Regions from separate parts of the Homo sapiens genome. Here all the other regions are linked to region 2. Evidence: fine-mapped expression QTL. A gene starts in region 2. Each other region holds a variant in brackets. All regions are shown on one strand. Distances are between the middles of the regions. Region 1 holds the start of EIF5A (eukaryotic translation initiation factor 5A). Region 2 holds the start of CNTROB (centrobin, centriole duplication and spindle assembly protein). Region 3 overlaps CHD3 (chromodomain helicase DNA binding protein 3).

Region 1 (8,169 bases), 620 kb before region 2:
ACATGTATCGTGTCACAAGACTTTTTTTTTTTCTTTTTTAAGAAACAGGTTCTCTGTTGCCCAGGCTCAAGTGCAGTGGTGGGGATTATAGCTCAATGAAGCCTCGAACTCCTAGACTCAAGCTATCCCTCCACCTCAGCCTCCCAAGAAAGAGTAGCTAGGTCTACAGGCACCAGCCACTGAGCTGAGCTTTTCTTGTTTTTGTTTTTTTAATTTTTTATTTGTAGAGATGGGCCGTTGTTATGTTGCCCAGTCTGGTCTGTAACTGCTAGCCTCACGGGAGCCTCCCACCTTGACCTCCCAAAAAGCTAAGACTACAGGTATGAGCCACTATGCCCAACCCATGTTGCAGAATTTTTGCAACGTCCTGAAAAATTGGGAAGTTCAGGCATCATTATTATTCTCATTTTATGGGAAGAAAATTAAGGCAGAGCTATCTGAAGTAATTCCTTAAAGACACAAAAGAAGGATGAGATCCCAAGATCTTTGGTCGCTTGTTTCTGTCTTTTTTTTTTTTTTTTTTTTTTTGAGATGGCGTATTGCTCTGTCGTGCAGGCTGGAGTGCATTGGCGAGATCTCGGCTCACTGCAATCTCCACATTCTGGGTTCAAGCGATTCTCCTGCCTCAGCCTCCCGAGTAGCTGGGATTACAGGCACGCACCACCACGGCACGGCTAATTTTTGTATTTTTAGTGGGGACGGGGTTTCACCATGTTGGCCAGGTTGGTCTGGAACTCCTGACCCAAGTGATCTGCTCGCCTTGGCCTCCCAAAGTGCTGGGATTACAGGTGTGAGCCACTGCGCCTGGCCGCTTGTTTCAGTCTTGTTATCCAACAAGGCAGCCATGAAGGTAGTGCAAGAAACCCAGGAATTGGAAGAAGACTACGAAGTTTCAGGAAAAGCGAAATGGGGGGCGGAGAGAGGGAGGGCAAAGAAAATAAAGTTGGGAAGATAGCTCGTCTCCAGCTTCATGGTCTCCTATGATTAAGACAATGTCAATGTAATCTAACATACCACTTTTTTTTTTTTTTTTTTTTTTTTGAGACAGAGTCTCTCGCTGTGTCTCCTAGGCTGGAGTGCAGTGGTGCGATGTCGGCTAACTGCAACCTCCGCCTCCTGGGTTCAAGCGATTCTCCTGCCTCTGCCTCCCGAGTAGCTGGTACAGGCGCCCACCTCCACGCCCGGCTAATTTTTTTGTATTTTCAGTAGAGACGGGGGTTTCACTACGTTGGCCAGGCTGGTCTTGAACTCCTGACCTTGTGATCCGCCCGCCTCGGCCTCCCAAAGTGCTGGGATTACAGGCGTGAGCCACCGCTCCCGGCCTACCACTATTTTATTTTATTTATGTATTATTTATTTATGTTTTTGAGACTTGAGTTTCGCTCTTGTTACCCAGGCTGGAGTGCAATGGCGCAATCTCGGCTCACGGCAACCTCCACAGGAGAAGCGATTCTCCTGTCCCAGCCTCCCGAGTAGCTGGGATTACAGGCATGCGCCGCCACGCCCGGCTAATTTTGTATTTTTAGTAGAGACGGGGTTTCTCCATGTTGGTCAGGCTGGTCTCGAACTCCCGACCTCAGGTGATCCGCCCGCCTCGGCCTCCCAGAGTGCTGAGATTACAGGTGTCAGCCACCGCGCCCGGCCCACCACTCATTTTTATAGACAATTTTTTCTAAGGGACCTCGTAGACAATACTTTGGGGAACCGCAGAGCACAGTTGGGGAAAACACAGTAATACCATCTAAGTTTCTTTACTGAGGACCTCAGAGCCGAATGGCCTCTATGGATGCCATAGAGACCAATACGGACTGAGGGTTTAAAGAAGATGGTGTCCGCCGCAGGACCGCTCTATCTTCTCGGGTGAACTCTATGGCAGAGCATAGGCATTCGATTTAGAGAAGTGAAGCCGAGATGGGTGGGAACCCGACCACACTAGCGCGCTAGAAGAGTGGGGCGGAAAGACATCTCCCGCGCATGTGTGGAACTGGGGGGACTGATTCCAAGACAAGGCGCCCACCCCACAGAGCAAGTTTTCTGAAACGTGTGAGTCGTTTAAGTCCAGTTAAAGCCGAGGTGGGGCGTATCCTGAGACGCATGCGTTCTAGACGAGACAAGTGATCTAGCGGCGTGGTCTTTTCAACGCCTGGCGTACTGACGGCGTCTGAGGTGGAAGGGGTTGTTTAGGATTCCGAACACGCATGCGTTCTGAGACCCAGGCGTTTCCTTTAGAGGGTGTGGAGTGCAGGGCTCCTTATTGCGCAGGCGCAAGGACTGCCCGGTAGGACGAGCGGTCTATCAAGGGGAGGGAAGATGAGGTTGAAGAGATTAAAAAACCGGGTGCGCCTGCGCGTTGCAGATTAGTTGAAAACGCTCAGGGTTTGTGAGGGGCGGGGTCACGTATGCGCGTCATTGGACGGGTCGGTGGGAGGGAGGGTGGAGATGGGTAGGGTGTGTGCGCTTGCGCAGTGCGGGGGTGGAGGGCGGAGGAGATAGATAGCACGCTTGCGCGGCTGTCATAGGGCTGCTTGGTTGGTCAGTGGGGAGTCGGCGCCTGCGTACTAAGACCCGTGTGCAGCAGCGGCGGCGGCGGTAGAGGCGGCGGCGGCGGCGGCAGCGGGCTCGGAGGCAGCGGTTGGGCTCGCGGCGAGCGGACGGGGTCGAGTCAGTGCGTTCGCGCGAGGTGAGAGCGGGCAGGGCGCGTGTGCGCGGTACCTTGGCTTGGGCCCGGGAGAAGATGGAACTGCGCGGGGGTCGGGGAGGGGGCAGAGGGGAGCGGCGGCCGCCGCCGCACGGGTTCGGCCAGAGAGCGGCGCGAGGTGAGGAGAGGCGCGGGCGCGCGCCCCGGTTGGCGCGCGGGGTGACGGTTGGGGTTGGCCCGGTGACGTTGGAGCGACGCAGGGCGGGGGACGGCGAGCCGCGAGGCAGCCACGCGGGAGAGGCCGCCAGGCGGCCACGCCGGGGCGAGGGCCAGGGGCCAGATCGGCCCACCGGGGCAAGGGTACCTGGGCCGTTGAGGACCCGGCTCAGCGCGGCCACGTGAGGTGGGGGAGGGGGCTATTCGGTGAGAGGGCATGATGGGGGGGGTTGGCGGACGGCCGGGGGGAGGGGAGGCGGCGTGGCTCCGGCCTGGCGCAGTCTCTGAGGAGGGGGCGGCCGCGGCACCGGAAGTGCCCCCCACGGGAGGCTGCCCTCGGGGTCGCAGGCCGCATGGCCAAGCGTGGACCGGGGCCGCATGGCAGCGCGGGGACCCCTCCCCCCAGGTCCCGGCCACCGGAAGCCCGGAACGGCCACATGGTCGGCAGGAGCCGGCAGCCCCTAGCGCGGGGAGCTAGTCCTCGCGGGGGTTCCGAGGGGGCCTGAGATTTTGAGGAGTGGAAGCCGGAGGCTCGGGTCCTAATCACCCCGGAGGGCCTGCTGCAGGCATATGTTAGCGCTTCCCAACCTCAAGGGCCCCAGGAGCTTTCCTGAAAAACCCTCCTGTGAAGTGTGGCGGTCAGCCAGGTGTAAGTGGCACCCCTTCGAGCTGGGAGGCCGGAGAAATGGGGAAACAGGGCGTTTGGACAGGAGCCCAACTTTTCTGTCGGCCTGGGTGGACAGCGCCTAAAAGCCTCAGGCAGATGAGTTTCCCACCGTGATAGGCGTTCTTCACCTTGTCACTGTCTTCCTGTTGTAACTGGTTTGGGAGTTCCACGGTTTCGAAGTCCTTAACTCTACTAGCCTAGTATGATTTTCTACTACTCACTACTACCAACCTTTTGCTTTCATTTTATTGTCATTCACCACCCCCCACCTCTCCCACTTTCTACTGACTGTACTGGCCCGGCCTGAAAAGCCGACAGGACAGATGCATCCTGGGAAAAGTGGGAGGGCCTTCCAGGAGAGGCTGGGTTCCTGGGTTCTCTTTGGGAACCAAGATCGAGGTGTTTGGCAGGGGGATCATTTCGGAAACAACTTTGCTTTCTCCCCCTTGGCTTGTTGCAAGTGCATGTTGGCGAGGCGGGAATCCCCCAAAGAGGCCTTGTGGTTTCCTGTAGCAGTGACTGGTTTGTGTGTGGATGGGGGGGGGCAGTGTAACAGATGGGTGGGGCCTTGTCCTCCGGTCTCCACCCTCCCCCCCCCCAATTAGCCCTGCCCTTTTGCTGGATCATAGCTGCTCACCTAATTATAGCCCTGGCTATATGTGGGGAAGAGGGGTGGTTGGTTTCAGTGGCAAGTAACACCTGAGTCCTCCCCACTCCCAGGAAGTAGGCCTTTTCTCATCTCTGAGATTTGACATTCCAGCTCCCTAGAGCCTTCCTTTCCCAAGCCACCACTTTAGCTTTGATTTATGGGGGAGAAACCAGCTATTCCACCCTCCCATACACACACCAGTTCTTGAGTATATTTGAGCCCAGTCAGTATTTTAAGTTCAGGAACTTTGACTTTATTTTAGGTGGGTAATGGAATAAAGAGTTGGGAAAATGTTTCTGGAGAGAAATGGGATAGATTGGAGGTCCTGTTGACCTCCATGCTTATTCACTTCAGTTCTCTTCTTGGCTCTAGTTGGAATCGAAGCCTCTTAAAATGGCAGATGACTTGGACTTCGAGACAGGAGATGCAGGGGCCTCAGCCACCTTCCCAATGCAGTGCTCAGCATTACGTAAGAATGGCTTTGTGGTGCTCAAAGGCCGGCCATGTAAGATCGTCGAGATGTCTACTTCGAAGACTGGCAAGCACGGCCACGCCAAGGTTAGAATTTCACCTCCGCATCTTGCCTTCCCCATGCCTCCAGTATCTTTGGCGCTCCCAGCAGCAAGCTGCCAACAGTGCTGACTTTCCTTTAACTCTGCTTTTACTGTCTGATTGTTTTTGTTTAGCGCTCAGCCTTCATACCCATTCAGACAACTACACCTGCTCCCCAGTCTTCAGCCTCTTCTGTGGTTACCCTTCTGTCCCCGCATCATTCTCTGGCAGTCCCTCC[G/A]TTTCTCCAGCTTTGTGCCAATCTCTTCAATTCATAGGCCTTTATGCTCTAGCTATTCAGTTGCTCCTTCCTTATTCTTGGTTTTCACTTTTTCTTTCTTCCCTTGAGCCGTTGTTAAGTGGTTGCTTCCATCACGTTGCCCAGGGTTTCTCCAATTCTACGCCTTCCCCTGGAGGGACTCCTGCGTCAATTCTGAGCTTTCAGGTCACCTTGCTGCTTCGTTCCCCAGTTCTAGCTTTCCCTTTGGAACTCTGACGCAGGATCAAACTGCCCCTACCTGCCCCATCCCACTCTCCTTGGGTTCCTTGAGCCTCCATGCTTTCATGGGTTTTAACATTCTTGCTAGCACTTCCCTCATCACCTCAGACTTTTCCTGTCTCTTTAGAATTTCAACCTGATTCGTTCTTGTTGAATTTCTTGTGGTGTTTTTCCTTAATCAGTTTTTCCATCTTTTGACTTGACATTGATCTTGGATTATTCTCTAGTGTCTGGATCCCTCTCTGTGCTCTTCTGGCTTCCTTATTTTCTAGCTACATAGTTATTTCTGATCTCCCTGCAAGTCCTTTTCTTCAGCTCTTTCACATTTCTTAGTTTCTTATCCTTTCCCTTCTACCTTCCTTATTCCCCAGTTTCTCAGCTCCTTCTCCTGGTGTCCGGAAAACTCTTCGAAACTTTTACTCAGACTCCTCCCACTCCCCTAGACTCTTAGCATCTTATCTTTTATCAAGGTAACTGTCTTCTCCAAGCCTGCCATGCAGTTTTCTATTGTGCTGTCAACCCCAATCTCAACGGTGGTTTTTTAGCCTCTGTTTTTTTTCTTTAAGAGGCTTTACTGTTTCTTGAGTTGACTGGTTCAATTCCAACACTCCAGTCTTTGCCCCAACAATGTAATTCTGACTTCCCTCATCAGGCAAGGTCAATTTGAGCCTTTATTTCCTCCGTTTTAGAGTTTGGTTGGGTTTCTCTTTGTGATGCATACATACAGGTCCATCTGGTTGGTATTGACATCTTTACTGGGAAGAAATATGAAGATATCTGCCCGTCAACTCATAATATGGATGTCCCCAACATCAAAAGGAATGACTTCCAGGTATGTAGATGGTCTGGATGAGGATGGGTTAGCGGTTTATGGTGGAGGGAGGGGTTGGGGGATAGGGACTGACCAGGAGAGCTTGTGCTGGGAGAGAGGAGGGAAATGGCAGGAGAGGGTGTTTGGTATTAGTTTGCTATCAGTCCAGTTTGTCTATCAGAGCCTTTACTGTCATGTCAGCCTCCCTGGGCCTACTACCTTCAGCCTCCTTCCCTATCTGCCCCCAGCTGATTGGCATCCAGGATGGGTACCTATCACTGCTCCAGGACAGCGGGGAGGTACGAGAGGACCTTCGTCTCCCTGAGGGAGACCTTGGCAAGGAGATTGAGCAGAAGTACGACTGTGGAGAAGAGATCCTGGTATGGTGCCTCCCTCCCTGCTTCTGTGCTCAGCTTTGTTCTGTACGTTTCTTCCTGAGCTCAGACATCTCTTGGCTATCCCTCTTGCTTCTCCAGATCACGGTGCTGTCTGCCATGACAGAGGAGGCAGCTGTTGCAATCAAGGCCATGGCAAAATAACTGGCTCCCAGGTGAGTGTGACAAATCCCTCACTGTCCCCTTCACATTTTGTTGTCCTCAGCAGAGCTGCTGTAGTCTTAATTGTTTCAGGCTTACTTTCTGCCCCTAGCCTGGCTCTGTCCTCCCTATCCTTCCTGTTGAAGGTATTATCCTGTCTTACTAATTTCTCTCTCCTACCTAGGGTGGCGGTGGTGGCAGCAGTGATCCTCTGAACCTGCAGAGGCCCCCTCCCCGAGCCTGGCCTGGCTCTGGCCCGGTCCTAAGCTGGACTCCTCCTACACAATTTATTTGACGTTTTATTTTGGTTTTCCCCACCCCCTCAATCTGTCGGGGAGCCCCTGCCCTTCACCTAGCTCCCTTGGCCAGGAGCGAGCGAAGCTGTGGCCTTGGTGAAGCTGCCCTCCTCTTCTCCCCTCACACTACAGCCCTGGTGGGGGAGAAGGGGGTGGGTGCTGCTTGTGGTTTAGTCTTTTTTTTTTTTTTTTTTTTAATTCAATCTGGAATCAGAAAGCGGTGGATTCTGGCAAATGGTCCTTGTGCCCTCCCCACTCATCCCTGGTCTGGTCCCCTGTTGCCTATAGCCCTTTACCCTGAGCACCACCCCAACAGACTGGGGACCAGCCCCCTCGCCTGCCTGTGTCTCTCCCCAAACCCCTTTAGATGGGGAGGGAAGAGGAGGAGAGGGGAGGGGACCTGCCCCCTCCTCAGGCATCTGGGAGGGCCCTGCCCCCATGGGCTTTACCCTTCCCTGCGGGCTCTCTCCCCGACACATTTGTTAAAATCAAACCTGAATAAAACTACAAGTTTAATATGAAGCCCCCAACTCAGCTGCTTATTTGAATTAAATGGGTGTATTTGGAAGCCACAAAAAGACTGAACTCTGCCACTGAGTTCACTGGAACCCGCTGTCTATCACTTTGACTTGCTGTGGACCTGCCAGCCATCCCCCCACCCTCCAAGCAACCTTGACCTATTCCAGACAGTTGGGTGGGAGGCAACACAAACAGCAGCAGCCAGGGGCAGTGGCAGGTAGATTTTATTGGCCTGGGACACACAGGGGATACCCTCACCCACGATGGGGTGGGGGGTGTGGTGTTGAAGATATAATCTGATGGTCACTTGTGGTAGAATCGCGGGTTCTGGCTGTGTTGGATGAAGGGGAGCCGAGGGCCAGGTTGGCTGGTAGCTGCAAAGCCCGACTGGTGGTGGTGATGAAAAGAGGGCTTTGTCACTGGGCATACTCTCCCTTCCACTTAATACCCTACTGATAACCACCCCCAAAGAGGAAGGAAAAACCAGATGATGTGGGCCACCTGTCCTACCTAATCCTGCTTTTCCGGATCCCTAGTGTAGGGATTCTGACAGGTAAATTCTATTACCATTCTTACCTTTCCTGCTGGCTGCATCTGCACAGGGAGCTGGGGGGAAGCAAGGAGTCCAGGGGCTGGATGCAGAGCCTGGGGGTGCATGGGGCGCAGAGAGGACTGCAGAGAACAGAGTCAGGGCCTGAGGCATACTGAAGCTCCCCTTAACATATCCCTAACCCTGACCTCCCAAGGTGCCATACTCACTGAGTCGGAGAAGCCAGTCTGCTGGTTAGC
Region 2 (8,173 bases):
TTACCTCCCTCACTGTACTCTAACCCATCACATCTCAGCCCTGGGTTCTCTAGTCTCTCCCCTCTCCCCATCCTCCAGCCTCAGATCCCTCATTCCCTGTGCTTGTTGTCCAAACCCCTATCCAGGTTCACTTCCCTTTTTTCAAGTTCCCTCACCCCCACCACCCTGATTCTAGGTCCGATAACTTATACCTCATCTGAGATCTGAGAACCAAATGTGACCCAGGTACCTGCAAGAGAGAAGCCAGGCACATGAGAACTGCAGGGGGCAGACCATGAAAGAATGCCCTCCTTTCCTTAATCCCTATTCTGACTCACCTAGGCCAAGACAGGATACCCGAAGACCAGACTTCCCTAGGTTCCTGCAAGATACAGAAGCAGCGGGAAGGGGTGGAGCCTCCATTATGGACTTAGATTATCAGCCCCCAGCTCCTCTCCTTCCAGACTGAGAAGCCCTCAGGTGTCTCAGTCCAAAGAAATTAGACCCAGTGGGCCTATAAGATTGGGCAAGTGCTATCTCCAGAGCAGAGGTCCTAGGAATTTTCTCAAAAGGACAAGTGAACCATATGTGACTGTTCCTCTGGAGCCACTGTCCAGAGTCTCCATTCCCTCTTATCACATTGAAGACGTGCAGTCTGGTTTGTCCTTCTTCTGGGGTCTTGTCTGTGTTTGAGTCATCTGTGGGTTGTGTGCAGTGAGGGGCTGGGAGGAATTTTGTTTGATTGTGGTGAGTTTGTGAGACCAGGCCCTCAGGCAGAGTGCTGTGCCAAATGGTAGATGGCAGGTTGGAAGAGGTAAACCAAGTCAAGTTCAGGCATTCAGACAGACAGGGGTCCCTGGCTAGGCTAGGCAGATGGGCCTGGAGGAAAGGCAGATTGAGGACCTGGGGGGAGGGGGGAGAGTAAGACAGAAAAGCCTAGTTCTCCCTCTCCACTCCCTCTGTTCCTATTGACTTGTGAAGACTGTCTCTGAACCAGTGAGCCCCCTCATCCTCCCAAAGCCCCCAACCCAGGTGTCAGCTCAGCTTTCCAATCAGGGCCACCATATAGAGGGGATCAGATTCCTCAGGTGACAAAGCAGGTCAGATCAGTGACCTCAGCTCACTCCCAAGCAGGAGCCCCTCCTCTACCCCCTACTTCAGGTTCTGAGCTTCTGGTCTGGCAGTCCTCTGAGATAAAGTCAGTTACATTTCAGTCTACCCAGACCCTGTCCCTCAGCATGGAGATGAAAAATGTGGTCCATCCTTCCCACCGGCCCCACTCCCCTTGCACCCAAGAAAGGTCGCAGAAGACCTAGCCTTTGGGGCAGGCAGGGGCAGTATCTGGGTCAGGCACCCCGAGCAGGCCAGAGTGAGAAGCTGATTCCCTCCCTCCACTCCCCAGGACACGGACCCAAGGACACTCCACTGGAGGAGGCATAGCCTGGAGATCCGTGTAGCGTGGAGATCCATGCATCCCTGACCTTCCCAGGGGTAAGGAGGGAAGCTCAGGGGCATCCCCTGGGTCTGACAGGACCCAGTCAACCTTGGTAAACTTGATTCTCGTAGTCAGGGGTATCGACAGAAACCAAGAGAGGGACAAAGTGAGGGAGTGCCAGAGACAGAAAGAAGAGATGGAAAGAAGGGAGACCTACTTAGTGAAGTTTGAAGGGGTCTTGGCGGCCATCTCAAGCAGTCTCAGGGGTCCCGAAAGGAAAGCGGAAGGGGTGGGCTGCCCGGCCACCCCCATACCTGTATTTCATGCCAGTGCCTCGGCCGGTGCTCTCTCGGAGGGCCCCAGCGGGCGCTGGGGGTCGGGGAACCAGTGCAGCTCGGGCCTTGGGGCCAGACCCTCCACCCCCCGGAGGATTCCCGTGCCCCCCGCCGGCCGGCCCACCATTACCGCCCCCGGGGCCCGGCCGGGGTCCACACAGACGGTCCTCACTGCTCCGGCTGCGAAGGTTCTGCTCGGTACACGCGATAGACACCTGCATGCTGGCTGGCCGAGGCGGGGGAGGGGGCTCCGAGGGGACGGGAGGGGGGAGCAGGGAAGCCCGAGGGCTGACGACCGGGGGCGTAGTGGGGCGAACCCCGGCAGAGCGGGAAGGCTGAGGAGGCTGCGGCGGGAGCCGCCAGGCAGGATCGGGCCCGCGGGGGCGGGCTGCTGGAGGTCGCGAGGTTTGCGGCGGGAGGGAAGAAACGTGGGGGGCGCCAGGAGTGGAGATATTCAGTTACGGGGGACACAGGAGCAAGGATTAGGAGGGGGAAATGGATGAGGGTAAAGGTCGAGGATGAGGTAAAGGTCTCGGAGGATAAGGACCCAGGGGGAAGCGGGGCGGGAGAGAGATGCCACTTCAGCGCGAACCGCTGCGGGACCCGCTGGGCTCCCAGCCGCGTCGGCAGCGGGCCCAGCTCATCAGCATGCAGGCACCGCCTCCTCATCTGCATAGAGCCGCCCTCCTCTCAGCCAAACCTGCCGCTCATCTGCATAAGCCCCGCCTGCTGAAGGCTCTGCAGCTTGAATATTTTCTGAGCGGAATTGGGGAGGATGGCTCCTGCACCCTCTGGGACCCAAGGGCTGTCAGGCTTCCCCCGGCCCAGTGATTCTCAATCGGGAGGGAATGTATCTCCCAGCGTACTTTCGGCAAGGTTTGGAGATATTTTTGATTTCATGCCTGTGCTATCAGCATCTAGTGGGTGGTGGCCAGGGATGCTAAAATCCTACAAAGCACAGGACGGTCCCCACAATAAAGAATTATCCAGCTCAAAGCATCAATATTCCCACGGTTGAGAAACCCATCCGCAAAGCCACTTCGTGGCCCTCCAGGGGGTGTGGCTGCCCTACTTTCCACCTTCATGCGTGGGGCAGGACTGAGAGGGCCCTCAAACCAACACGCTCAGGCCGCAGAGAGTGACAAAAAGTTTATTCTGTGCTTCTCGCAGCATTAGGCAGGGGATAAAACTGGAGAGAGGGCCTGGTGTGGAGGTGGAGGGACTCTGTGGGCTTCACTCTGGTAGGAGGAGAGCATCAGGGCAGGCCTTTAGGCTGTTGCTCTGGGCAGGGGGTGGGGGTGCGGGGGCTTACAGTGGGGGCCCTTAGTTGGCACAGGTTCGGAAGGGCCCCAGGCAGACATGAATTCTCCTGAGACTTGAGGTAGGTTGCTTCAGCCAGCCCGGGCGGAGAAGAAGGGCAGAGAGCGAACATAGGAGTCCAGTCGGGAGCGAAAGAGCTCACTTTGCACAGTTTGGCCCAGCGGGCACAGGGGATTCTTCACCACCAGCTCCACATACAGCTATGGAAAGGGAAGATGTTAGAGCCAGGCTTTGGATACTTCTGGTTTTTAGCCCCAAACCTTGTATAACCTCAGGGGTGTGTGAATGCACAAGGAATAAGGGCTGGAAGGCAAGCCCTCTCTGAGGAGAAAGTGGTGGTGGGAGTTAAGAACCTAAGGGCCCCTGAGAAAACTCTTGAGTTGAGCAAACATATAGTAGGATTGGGGCAGGGGAGATGAGGGAGTCTTGGGGTTCTGAAGAGCTCTGGGGGATGGGTCCCTGGGGCTGGCACTGACCGCACTGTAGATGTGGTGCAGCACATCTCGGATGGGTCCCACGCCCAAGTCAGTATTCATGACAACTTTGATCCCAGTGGGCGTCTCGTAGTAATGGAGTTTGTAACGGCTAGTTTGGAAGGCCAGGAAGCCATCCTTCCTGCAGAGATGAGGAGGGTGTTAAAGAATGGGAGCAGAATCTCTCCCAAAGAGACACTTCTGATCCCCGCAAACATCGACTCCCTCTTTATCTAAACATATCCTTTGTAGAAGCCTGGTTGAGTAAAGACATCGCCCATCGTCACCCCTCAATTTAGCCCCCACCAACTTCTCTACTTTCAGACCCTCCCCACCCCCACTCCTGCCAGCTCCAGCACTCTCGCTCCGGACTCAGCCTCTCTTAAGTACCCTTTCCCCCCTCTGGAGGCCAATGCTCCTTCCACTTCAGAAAGTTTCCCCCATCCCCAAATTCCCAAGGCTAGCCCTCCTCCCAACATCTTCTCTGACTCCGCGTACATGTCTAGCGGGGACATCTTGCTGACAAACGAGCGGATAGAGAAGAGCATCCCGTACATCAGCTTATACTCCTGGAGGGAGAGGGGCAGAGTTAGCTCTCGGTTGATGCGGGAGATGGGGTGGGGGGTGGGAACGAGCTGGGGTTTGGAGAGGAGGGGCTGGGTTGGGACTATAGGTGTTTGGAGATGAGAGGTCGCCCGGGCTGCACCGGGGCCCTCTCGTCACCTCCTCCTTGGGAATCCCTGCTTGCTTCTTGCGGTGCCATTCGCTGTAGTGCAGACACACTCCATTCCGGTCAAACAGGTACAGGTTGTGGACAGTCATCTGCAGGGCAGGGAGTGTGAGCCTCGCTCCGGGGCCGCCCCCACTCCTTGGGCTCGGGTTCCCGGACCCACAGCCTTCCAACCAGGTGGGGACCCCACCCACGGACTCACCGGAACTGCTCCGAGTGCCCGTCAAGAGTTACTTCCGGTTTCCACGGAGCTCCGCCCCTTAGGGGGGTTCTCGCTCGGCCGCGGCTGGGCATTAACTCCGCTCCAGTGCTGCTTGTCAGACTCCGCCTCCCTCCCTCAGCCAATCTGTGGCCACCGGAGCCGCGCACGCGCGGCCAGGCGCTCGGGATACAGAAGTGATGTGAGTGTCTGCGAGCGTGGTCTCGCGGGCGGGTGACGTCATCGAGGCGAGAGAGGCGGAGCCGTGGACAGTGGGCGGGAGGCTGCCAACGGTTTTGAGCGTAGGGGGAGGCGTGAGAGGGGGATCTCAGGGGAGGAGGTCAATCGCTTGCCCCCCACTTTGGCAAATTGGGGACTGAGGACTGGAAGGGTGGAGAGTAGGCGGAACCAGGTGGTCGTCGGGGCAGAGGATCTCGGGCTAGGCTTGAGGGCGGCGTGCTTCTTAGGGACGACTTAGGGCGTGACTGAGGGTTCACAAGGTTTCTTTTGGGGTGGTCGGGAGGGAGAGATTCTAGGGAACAAGGAAGCTCGCTATGGCTTTCTTGCCAGGAGGGGTCGAAGGGAAAGTACAAGGGAGCTGGAGCTGACCCTGGGTAGAACGGGTGAAGGGATGGGGGAGCGTGAGGTTCCGCCCTCTCTTGAGACTGGAACCAATTGAGGGACTAGTAGGGCAGGGGGACAGAAATTGGGCTCCTAGTGGATTTGGGTCCGTTTCCGTTGGGACGTTTTGGGTGTGAGAACTTAAGAGCTCAGTTGACCGGGGATAGCCTGTGCCGGAGTTGATCTGCAGCTTCCAGCACTCGTAGTCGGGAAGAGGAGCTTCAGCAGCGCTGTTGTCCCACAGTAGGTCTTCTGTCCGCACCCGCTCTGCGCTGCACCCTCTTAACGCTGTTCCCAGGAGCTGGGGAAAGGGATGCTTTTGCCCACTCCCATGGCCCCTGGAACTGGTGGAAACCTTTCCTCTAACCAGAAAGCCTCGATATCCTTAATTCACCAAGGATCCTTGGCGTGGAGTCTTCCTCCCTTCTCCCAAGTCTTTCTCCGTGAACTTTTCCTCCTGGACTTTGCTAAAGCAGAACCTCCCAGCTCTTTGCTGTCTCCGGTTGTCTCTTCCCTGTATTCATGGCAACATCAGCTGACAGCCCCAGTTCACCCCTCGGGGCGGAGGATCTCCTGAGTGATTCATCAGAACCCCCTGGGCTCAACCAAGTGTCGTCTGAAGTGACCTCCCAGCTCTATGCTTCTTTGCGCCTCAGCCGGCAGGCGGAGGCCACGGCCCGAGCCCAGCTGTATTTACCCTCCACCTCCCCGCCTCATGAAGGGTTAGACGGCTTCGCCCAAGAATTGAGTCGAAGCTTGTCAGTCGGATTGGAAAAGAACTTGAAGAAAAAGGTGAGGGAAGTGTGTCTTGGAGACCACTGTGGCACTAGACACCAGAGAGTCTTGGGATTGGGGTTGGTAAAAATAAAAAGCTTTGATGAGATTTGAACTCTTCCTGTTGGATTTCATATTCCTTTTAACTGCATAGGCAGCCATGCTTATAAGGGAGGGAGTGACCTGGGACACCATAATTTGAAAATTATGAAACTTCCCAGTGTTTTTTTGTGAGAGACATCTCTGCTCCGAGTAGATAGAGCAAACCTATGGGGTAGGTTGGTGAGCTATTTCCCGTGCACTGGGAATGGGTAAGGTTTCTTGATCCCAAGAGGGAGCTAGGGACTTAGGATAGCAGCTCCGATCCTTCCAGCTCAACACTATGTTGATAGTATGGTTCCAACTTTGGCATGTACATCATTAAGACATAGCTTAGTCAACTACAACATGTTACAGAGAAGATAGTTATTAGTATTGTATAGAAAAGGTGTCAGAGTCAATTTGCAGACTGGTTAGGTCTTCCAGAGTTTGAAAATGATAGCCATAAGCCATACAGTCCTTACATTTGTTCTTGAATCGGCAAGAATCTCCGCAACTCTTGTCTTATACCTCCTCGATTATTTTATTTACACTCTCTTTCTGGCTTCTGTAGTATTTGAATTTCTGATTCAAGTTTAGGACATCCCTTATTGGATCCGTTTGGTTTTTCTTGTTTTCCAAAGTGCTGGAGTGAAAATTCTACCCTGGCAATAGGTAGGAGATAGATAACACAGACTGCATCTGATTTCCATGTGGCTTTTTTCCAGGATGGTTCTAAGCATATCTTTGAGATGGAAAGTGTTCGGGGTCAGCTCCAGACCATGCTCCAAACCTCACGTGATACAGCCTATCGTGAGTAAGCCCCTTCCCTAGAACTATGAAGGAGAACCTAGATGTAAGGGGTGGGAGAAAGTGGACAGAGGAAGCAGGCAGGAAAACCTCTGAGCAAGAGATTTCAGGAGAAAAGTCTCCCGTTCTTTGGGAGAGGGGGTGAAGGAGTGAGGGAACTGGAAAGGAAGGCCTTTTCTCTTCAGGTGGCCCCTGTTTTTGTCATTACCTGACTCTGGCTTTGGGGTCCCTCTGGCTGCCTGCAGGGGATCCTCTCATTCCTGGCGCTGGCTCAGAGAGACGGGAAGAGGACTCCTTTGACAGTGATAGCACAGCCACCTTGCTCAAGTGAGTTCTCCTTGTGGTTCTCCTAGCTTGTTTGCTTTCTTGGAAATCCAGGTGTTTTGTTCCTTATTTCTCCCTTTATTGCTTTTGTACCTCTTAAGAACCCAAGAGGCTTATCACTTGCCTTTCAGTTTTCATCTTTTTCTACTGTCTCCTGCCCCCTTTACTCCTTCAGGAACACAGGTATCTGTTGCCTAGTACCTGGCTTTCTCTTAACCTGCAGTCATTCTTCCCCTCTAAAGAGTTAGCTTGTTTCTGCTGAAACCTTTAAGTGAATCACAGACCTGTGTGTTATTTATAGCACTATGGTTATATAGCTTTACGACTTTGGACAAGTCTCTTGCCCTCTCTGGGTCTCAGTTTCCTCATTTGTAGAATATCACAGTTGGACAAGTGGATTCCAAAAGCTTTCCCAGCCCTAACATTCTCTACCTGATTTGCTCAGCACCCGGCCCCTGCAAGACTTGTCTCCATCTAGCTCAGCCCAAGCCCTGGAGGAGCTGTTTCCCCGCTACACCAGCCTTCGGCCAGGGCCTCCACTCAATCCCCCAGATTTTCAGGGGCTGAGAGATGCATTGGATTCAGAGCATACCCGCCGCAAGGTAAGATGCAAACGCTTCCTTTCGAAAGCAGCAAAGATTAGAAAGAGGGGACCCAAGTGTTGAAAAGGGCTGAGGGGGCCTGGCGTGGTGGCTCACGCCTGTAATCACAGCACTTTGGGAGGCTGAGGCAGGCGGATCACGAGGTCAGGAGATCGAGACCATCCTGGCTAACACGGTGAAACCCGTCTCTACTAAAAATAGAAAAAATTAGCCGGGCATGGTGGTGGGTGCCTGTAGTCCCAGCTACTCGGGAGGCTGAGGCAGGAGAATGGCGTGAACCTGGGAGGCGGAGCTTGCAGTGAGCCGAGATCATGCCGCTGCACTCCAGCCTGGGCGACAGAGCGAGACTCCGTCTCAAAAAAAAAAAACTAAAAAAGAAAAGGGCTGAGGGTTAAGAGCCTGAAAGCTGGGACTTAAATGTTTTTCTGAGGAGGGCTTTTTTGACCATTCCATCTAATATGGCACCACCTCCTTTCCAAGTAGTCAGATCGCC
Region 3 (8,173 bases), 39 kb before region 2:
CTTGGGAGGAGGAATATTTAGGTAATTGTGGAGACTTTCTCCTGTGTGATGAAGGCGGCAGACACTGTGATCCTGTGGGCAAGAAGTAAAAATGACCAGCTGAGGATTTCTTTTCCTCCAGGACTGTGTTGGGGTGACAGGATGCCTGGTAATTATCCGAGGAAATGTAAATAGAGGCCTCCCTCTTGGCAAAAGGATGTCAGGGCCCCAGGGTGTTAGTGTGAGAACCCAGGTGTCCACCTTTGGCTCTCCCTCCCCAGCATCTGGCTTAGGGAGCTGCCAGCTTGTGTCTCCCCACTCCAAGTGCTGGGGTCAGGCCAGGCCAGCAGCTGGGCATGGCTTCCCCAGTTCCTGGGCAGGATGCCAGCTGGCGAAGTGAGGGGGAAGGCAGGAGGAGCCCTGGCGGTGACTGAAAGGACCTGCCACAGTCAGAGCCCATGGCCTGGAGCCTGGTCTCTTGTTAGTAGGAGGGGAGGGAGGGGAGTGGTTTGGCTGCTCTTCTCTTCTGACCCCTGACCTCCCATTCAGAACCAGAGCATCCCAGAGTACTCGAAACACTTTCTGTTTGCATCCAGTGAAGGGAGGCAGGGCTTGGAGGAGTTAATGCTTCCTAGAGAGTGGGAACTGCCGAGGTGGGGAAGGGGCAAGTTGAGGGGCCTCAGAGGCTGGAAACCTAGAGGCTTAGGTTTTCTGATGCTTTTTGCTTCAAAGATAAGGATGACATTCGGCTGCTGCCGTCAGCATTGGGTGTGAAGAAGAGAAAACGAGGACCCAAGAAGCAGAAGGAGAACAAGCCAGGAAAACCCCGAAAACGCAAGAAGCGTGTAAGTGTCAAGAATTCCTAACTCTGTGGCAAGGCTCAAGAGACCCATTCTCAGAGACCTACATTTTCTCTGGTCCTGATTACTGGTGTGGGGGTGGGGTTCTGAAGCCAGGGAGGCTTGATCCCCCGGGCCCCCCACTTCCCTGCCACTGTTGGCCTGTATCTCAGGGATCTGGGACCCTAACTTCATTCACTGCAACCTAGTGAAGAGCCTCGTTGTCAGTGTGTCCTCAGCAGCAAAGAGAAGCAGTTGAAAGCACAAGCTCTGGAAGACTGTATGAATTCAAGAGTCCAGCATTCCTCTGTCTAGGATACCAGGCCGTTTATTTGGCTCTCTGTGCCTTAGTTTCCTCATCTGTAAAAAGTAGATAAAGGCCGGTTGCAGTGGCTCACGCCTGTAATCCCAGCACTTTGGGAGGCTGAGCCGGGTAGATCATTTGAGGTCAGGAGTTCGCGACAAGCCTGGCCAATGTGGTGAAACTCCGTCTCTACTAAAAATACAAAAATCAGCCGGGCGCGGTGGTACGTCTGTAATCCCAGCTACACAGGAGGCTGAGGCAGGAGAATCGCTTGAACCCGGGAGGTGGAGGTTGCAGTGAGCCGAGATCACGTCAGTGCACTCCAGCATGGGTGACAGAGCAAGACTCCATCTCCAAAAAAAAAAAGGAGATAAAAAATTAGTTACTATCACAGGATTGTTGTGAAGATTAAAAGAGGTAAGATATGGTATGTGCTGAGAACAGTTTCTGGCAATGGTAGGGATGAATAAATGTTATTTTTATTTCTTTCTCTTAGGACAGTGAGGAGGAATTTGGTTCTGAGCGAGATGAGTACCGGGAGAAGTCAGAGAGTGGGGGCAGTGAATATGGAACCGGACCGGGTCGGAAACGAAGAAGGAAGCACCGAGAAAAAAAGGAGAAGAAGACAAAGCGGCGGAAAAAGGGGGAGGGAGATGGGGGGCAAAAGGTGAGTAGAATTAGGGAATGAGAGTGAGAAATCTGCATTAAAGACGGGCATGAGGAGGGGAGGAATGGAGACTGGACTGGAGAATGGGGCAAGAAGCAAGAAAGCCCAGGGAAGCTAGTGGGTAGGTAGACAGGCCTGTGTGCGGCCTGGAATAGGGGCTGGAGGAGCACCTACTTCACCAAAGCCCCTCTCCCGCAGCAAGTGGAACAGAAGTCATCAGCAACTCTGCTTCTGACCTGGGGCCTGGAGGATGTGGAGCATGTGTTCTCTGAGGAGGATTACCACACGCTCACCAACTACAAAGCCTTCAGCCAGTTCATGAGGTGCGGTAAGACTGGGGAATCCTCGCTAATTGACACTTTTAATTTGAGGGAGGTCCTGGACCCCTTGGAATCTGATGAAAGCTATGAAACTGCTCTCCAGAGAATTCACGGTGTATACACACCAAATTCTACACGTCATTTCAGGGAACTCCTAGACTCATAAGGATCCAAGAACCCCAGTTGAGAACTCTTCACTGAGGGGCGAGGGGTGGAGGGGCCATCATGATTCCAGTGCTGGGTTAGAGAACTCTTTAGCAACAGAATAAAGTGAGGACAGAATATAGTGAGCCCTCCCCTGCCCCAACAGCTCCATCTTCTGCTCTGTGACTTCTCTCTAGACTGGACCTGAGAGATACCATCAGTGTTCCTGAACTTCCTTAGCTCACTTAGCAGGTCCTGTGCCCCTTCCTTAGGCCCTGGTAATAATGGAGGGTCCACTGCTGGCAGTGGGACCTGAGCTTCAGTGGCTCCTGAAGAAAAGTAGAGAATAGTAGAGTAGAAAATAGCAGAGATGGGCCAGGTGCAGTGGCTCATGCCTGTAATCCAAGCACTTTGGGAGGCCAAGGCAGGTGGATCGCCTGAGGTCAGGAGTTCAGGACCAGCCCATCCAACATGGTGAAACCCCGTCTCTACTAAATACAAAAAAATTAGCTGGGCGTGGTGGCACATGCCTGTAATCCCAGCTACTCGGGAGGCTAAGGCAGGAGAATCGCTTGAACCCGGGAGGCAAAGGTTGTAGTGAGCCGAGATCACACCACTGCTATGCTCTAGCCTGGGCAACAAGCGAAACTCCGTCTCAAAAAAAAAAAAAGAAAAAATAGTGCCGATGTATTTTGTTTTGGGGAGAAGGCACTTTAACATATCAGTTCAGTGCTCTGGAGGCAGCTGCTGAGGTTCACATCTGGTTACATTTTGGGCAAGTGACTGAACTTCTTCAATCCTCAATTTCCTCTTCTATAAACGGGGAATAATAATATATACCTCATAGGAATCTGTGTGGGTTTGGTGGGATAATGAATGGAAAGCACAGTACCGTCAGTGCCTGGCTCCTAGGGAGCATTCAGTAACTGGTGACTGTCATTAGTAACGTTGTCTCACCTACCTTACTGCTGAACTTGGGGCTTTTCTCAGCACCATGGATCACCCGTGTCCGCACAAGAGTTGAGCACCCCACCCCAGAGCAGAACCAGCATGGTCTGACTCTTTCACACTCCGTCCTACGGAAGCCCATCTTCAGGGCCCATGGAACTTACTAGTAAAATGCAGAGAATCATAGCAACTCAAGAGTATTATTGTGAGGACAAGATAAGGTGGAATGTATGTGAAAGGGTTTTATGAACTGTAAAGTAGTATACAAAAGTAAAGCATTTTTGTTGATTTTATTTTAACCTTTTATGCTTTTAAGTTTTATTTCGCTGTTTTTTATTTCCCCTTTTTTTTTTTTTTTTTTTGAGATGGAATCTCACTCTGTCGCCAGGCTGGAGTGTAGTGGCGCAATCTTGGCTCACTGCAACCTCTGCCTCCCAGGTTCAAGCAATTTTTCTGCCTCAGCCTCCCGAGTAGCTGAGACTACAGGTGCGCACCACTACACCCAGCTAATTTTTGTATTTTTAGTAGAGACGGGGTTTCGCCATGTTGGCCAGGATGGTCTCCATCTCTTGACCTCGTGATCCTCCCACCTTGGCCTCCCAAAGTACTGGGATTACAGGCGTGAGCCACTGCGCCCAGCCTATTTCCCTTTTTTTAAAGACAGGGTCTCATTCTGTCACCCAGGCTGCACTGCAGTGGTGTGATCATAGCTCACTATATCCTCCAACTCCTGGGCTCAAGCCACCCTCCTGCCTCAGCCTCAGGTGCTGCCACACCCAGCTAATTATTTTTTTTTATTTTAATTTTTTGTAGAGACAGGATCTCACTTTGTTGCCCAGGCTTATCTCATAGCCCTGGGCTCAAGCAATCCTCCTGCTTCAGCCTGGAATTACAGGCATGAGCCACCGTGCCTGGCCTGTATTTCTTTTTTAATGCTTTTTTAAACCTGTTCTTTCCCCGCTTTTTTTAAACTTCTTTTTATTTATTTTTTTAAATGGCTGTTTTTCCTAATAGGACATATTCTCACCACCCAGGAATCCTAGCATGTACATAGATTTAATTGATGAGGGGAGATGGCAGTGTTCCCAGACCATCTGTGAAGGGTCCGAGTTTTCTGCTTCTATATTTACAGGCCCCTAATTGCTAAGAAGAATCCTAAGATCCCAATGTCTAAGATGATGACCATCCTTGGGGCCAAATGGAGAGAGTTCAGTGCCAACAACCCCTTCAAGGGGTCAGCAGCTGCTGTGGCGGCGGCAGCGGCAGCAGCAGCAGCAGCTGTAGCTGAGCAGGTGTCAGCTGCTGTCTCGTCGGCCACCCCCATAGCACCCTCCGGACCCCCCGCCCTTCCACCACCCCCTGCTGCTGATATCCAGCCCCCACCCATCCGAAGAGCCAAAACCAAAGAGGGCAAAGGTAGGGAAC[T/A]CTCTTCCAACAACTGTCATCTCACCTTCCAAACTGCATGTCTTCACATTAGAGTCTGGAACTCTCGCCTTCCCAGCCCTGATTGCTGGAGGAGAGATGCTTTCCAGGAAGTGGGGCTTAGTGAAACCACAGCCCACAGAGGAATCCAGAGGCCCCTGTGACCTCCATAATTCCAGGATGTCATGACCTCTCCTTTTTCCTCTTCTCACCCCGACTCCTCATTCAGGTCCAGGCCATAAGAGGCGGAGTAAGAGCCCCCGAGTGCCTGATGGACGCAAGAAGCTTCGGGGAAAGAAAATGGCACCACTCAAAATAAAACTAGGGCTTCTGGGTGGCAAGAGGAAGAAAGGAGGCTCGGTGAGTGACCCGTCCCTGTCTACTAAACACCTGGGGGCCAAGGATCCAGAGACAGGGATCCGTGAGGGCCAAGGATCCAGAGACAGGGATCCGTGAGGGATGGCGGAACAGGAAGCCAAAGGCCTGGGGAGGGCGTAGAATGAAGTCTGCCTCACTGACGGCCACGGGGCTATGGGCAGTATGTTTTTCAGAGCGACGAAGGTCCTGAACCAGAGGCTGAGGAATCAGACCTGGACAGTGGCAGTGTCCACAGTGCCTCAGGCCGGCCTGATGGCCCTGTCCGCACCAAGAAACTAAAGAGAGGCCGGCCAGGAAGGAAGAAGAAGAAGGGTAAGGAGTGTTGACTGTGTGTGATCCTGTCAGTGGGCCGTCCTCTCATTCTTATTTTCAATTTTGACTTCTCTCTTCAACCCTTCTCCCTCTCTCTCTCCATCTCCCCCTGCCCTGCTTCCTTATCCCTCCACCGGGGTATATGACAGTCCTGGGCTGTCCTGCAGTGGCCGGGGAGGAGGAGGTTGATGGCTACGAGACGGATCACCAGGATTACTGTGAGGTGTGCCAGCAGGGTGGGGAAATTATTCTGTGTGACACCTGCCCTCGTGCCTACCACCTCGTCTGCCTTGATCCTGAGCTTGACCGGGCTCCAGAGGGCAAATGGAGCTGCCCTCACTGTGTGAGTACCTAATGCCAGCATCTGATGGCCCTGAGGAACCCACCCATCTCTTTCCCCCTTGGTTTCACTTACCCTCTTCCTGCCCCCAGATGGCTGGACTTCTTAGTAACAGATGTCCGAGTGTCTAGGATCCTAATGTATTCCTTTCTCCCACAATCAACATTTCTGAAACTGGAGTGTCCTTTTCCTTAGTTCCCACCAGTCTTCTCTGCACTTCTAGGATTCAGGTGTCCTGTCTTTGCCTGTATCTTCCAGTTTCATTCCTTAATTTCTTCCATCTGTCTGTGTGTCTATCCTTGGCCCCCTAGGAGAAGGAGGGGGTCCAGTGGGAGGCCAAGGAGGAAGAAGAAGAATACGAAGAGGAGGGAGAGGAAGAAGGGGAGAAGGAGGAGGAGGATGATCACATGGAGTACTGCCGCGTATGCAAGGACGGCGGGGAGCTCCTGTGCTGTGACGCGTGCATCTCCTCCTACCACATTCATTGTCTAAACCCTCCCCTGCCTGACATTCCCAATGGTGAATGGCTGTGTCCCCGATGCACAGTGAGTGGAAACATCTCCCCTCTGTATTTACTGTCAGGCCTGATCCCTTCCCCCATCCCTGGGGCCCACATGTCCAGCTTTTCATTTCTCTGCACTCCCCCACCCTTGTGGGACCCCTATCTTCTCATCTAACAATGGGTTCTTTCTGCCTCTTTCTTTCCTCCTCCTTGTACGTGTCCATCCCAAAGTGCCCCGTGCTGAAGGGTCGAGTGCAGAAGATCCTACATTGGCGGTGGGGGGAGCCACCTGTAGCAGTGCCAGCCCCTCAACAGGCAGATGGAAATCCAGATGTCCCACCCCCCCGTCCTCTTCAAGGCAGATCAGAGCGAGAGTTCTTTGTCAAGTGGGTAGGACTATCCTACTGGCACTGCTCCTGGGCCAAGGAGCTTCAGGTACTAGGACCTTTTCTTTCCCTCTCCCCCATGACCTCATTTCCTGCCATCCTCTCCCTCTCTTACTCCTCTGTTTGTTGGGTTCCCATACTCTTTGTTTTCTCTCATTTCAGGCCTGTGGCCTTCATACCCTACTTGCTTAGTTTCCATATGTGGTTCTTTTGGTCTACAGTCCTCTTTCTCTCAGTCTCCGTTAGCTTCCTTCCCTCAGATATAGCATAGCCTTTCCTAACTTCATGTCCTTCCTTATCTGTCTTTTTCCATGTTTTATAATATTCCTGGCTGGGCATGGTGGCTCACACCTATAATCCTAGCACTTTGGGAGGCCAAGGCAGGAGGATTGCTTGAGACCAGCCTGGGCAACATAGTGAAACCCCATCTCTGTTTAAAAAAAAATTCTCGGCTGGGTGTGGTGGCTCACGCCTGTAATCCCAGTACTTTGGGAGGCCGAGGTGGGCGGATCACCTGAGGTCAGGAGATCGAGACTATCCTGGCTAACATGGTGAAACCCCATCTCTACTAAAAATACAAAAAAATTAGCTGGGCGTGGTGGCAGGCACCTGTAGTCCCAGCTACTCAGGAGGCTGAGACAGGAGAATGGCGTGAACCCGGGAGGCGGAGCTTGCAGTGAGCCAAGATCGTGTCCCTGCACTTCAGCCTGGGCGACAGAGCGACACTCTATCTCAAAAAAAAAAAAAAAAAAAAAAAAATTCTCAATGTTTCTAATCCCATTCCCTATCTCTTGCTTGTAAGAGCCCCACCCAGGCCTTGTCTTCTGAAACTGTTGCATCTGTTTCATTTTATTTATTCTCCGTCTTGGCTTTGACTCATTTATCTCTAATCCATCCTTTTTCTTTTTTTTTCTATTTTTTTTTTTTTTTAGATGGAGTTTCGCTCTTGTTGCCTAGGCTGGAGTGCAGTGGCACGATCTTGGCTTACTGCAACCTCTGCCTCCTGGGTTCAAGCGATTCTCCTGCCTCAGCCACTCAAGTAGCTGGGATTACAGGCATGCGCCACCACGCTTGGCTAATTTTGTATTTTTAGTAGAGACGGGGTTTCTCCATGTTGATCAGGCTGGTCTCGAACTCCCAACCTCAGGTGATCCACCTGCCTCTGCCTCCCAAAGTGCTGGGACGCGCCTGTTATTCTCTTATTGCCCCGGCTGGAGTGCAGTGGTGTGATCTTGGCTCGCTGCAACCTCCGCCTCATGCATTCAAGCGATTCTCCTGCCTCAGCCTCCTGAGTATCTGGGATTACAGGCGTGCGCCACCACACCTGGCTAATTTCTGTATTTTTAGTAGAGACGGGGTTTCGCCATGTTGGCCAGGCTGGTCTTGAACTCCTGACCTCAGGTGATCCACCCGCCTGAGCCTCCTAAAGCACTGGGATTACAGGCATGAGCCACCGTGCCTGGGCCAATCCATCCTTTTTCATAGCTCCCTTTCCCTGTCCCATTCCTCCTGCCGGCCTCTTCCCGGTTCCTTGTTGTCCTCTGTGAGTGTCAGGACTATCTCTTTCCCTTTTTTCTGTGCCCTGCTAGCTGGAAATCTTCCATTTGGTTATGTATCGAAACTACCAGCGGA

What was found.
Region 1: its variant is fine-mapped to the expression of CNTROB in aorta (GTEx, PIP 0.92).
Region 3: its variant is fine-mapped to the expression of CNTROB in whole blood (GTEx, PIP 0.95).

The regions. Positions count from the first base shown.
Region 1 is chr17:7,305,073-7,313,241 of GRCh38, forward strand. EIF5A (eukaryotic translation initiation factor 5A) reads left to right here and starts at 2,556. Exons shown (of 6, transcript NM_001970.5): 1 at 2,556-2,680; 2 at 4,543-4,728; 3 at 5,946-6,050; 4 at 6,278-6,409; 5 at 6,506-6,579; 6 at 6,750-7,391. The coding sequence starts at 4,564. The coding sequence ends at 6,568. It overlaps GPS2 (G protein pathway suppressor 2), which reads right to left. Exons shown (of 11, transcript NM_004489.5): 9 at 8,140-8,169; 10 at 7,957-8,052; 11 at 7,589-7,767. The coding sequence ends at 7,684. RefSeq lists enhancers at 870-1,681, 1,553-1,852, 1,682-2,492, 3,723-4,012 and silencers at 2,403-2,512, 2,873-3,042, 3,133-3,252. The variant G/A (reference allele first, on the strand shown) is at 4,961.
Region 2 is chr17:7,927,466-7,935,638 of GRCh38, forward strand. It overlaps CNTROB (centrobin, centriole duplication and spindle assembly protein), which reads left to right and starts at 4,741. Exons shown (of 19, transcript NM_053051.5): 1 at 4,741-5,884; 2 at 6,673-6,757; 3 at 7,000-7,081; 4 at 7,524-7,680. The coding sequence starts at 5,615. KCNAB3 (potassium voltage-gated channel subfamily A regulatory beta subunit 3) reads right to left here and starts at 2,391. Exons shown (of 14, transcript NM_004732.4): 1 at 1,729-2,391; 2 at 318-361; 3 at 192-229. The coding sequence starts at 1,970. It overlaps TRAPPC1 (trafficking protein particle complex subunit 1), which reads right to left and starts at 4,481. Exons shown (of 4, transcript NM_021210.5): 1 at 4,266-4,481; 2 at 4,041-4,111; 3 at 3,546-3,684; 4 at 2,884-3,269. The coding sequence starts at 4,364. The coding sequence ends at 3,141. RefSeq lists enhancers at 4,195-4,434, 4,775-4,824, 5,045-5,104, 5,135-5,424, 5,555-5,684 and a silencer at 5,612-5,789.
Region 3 is chr17:7,888,953-7,897,125 of GRCh38, forward strand. It overlaps CHD3 (chromodomain helicase DNA binding protein 3), which reads left to right. Exons shown (of 40, transcript NM_001005273.3): 1 at 1-148; 2 at 712-824; 3 at 1,619-1,789; 4 at 1,988-2,112; 5 at 4,334-4,617; 6 at 4,853-4,983; 7 at 5,163-5,313; 8 at 5,463-5,656; 9 at 5,965-6,198; 10 at 6,387-6,590; 11 at 8,131-8,173. The coding sequence starts at 49. Among named protein-coding and RNA genes, the nearest start is that of CHD3, 4.2 kb to the left of the region's middle. RefSeq lists enhancers at 269-838, 4,796-5,995. The variant T/A (reference allele first, on the strand shown) is at 4,627.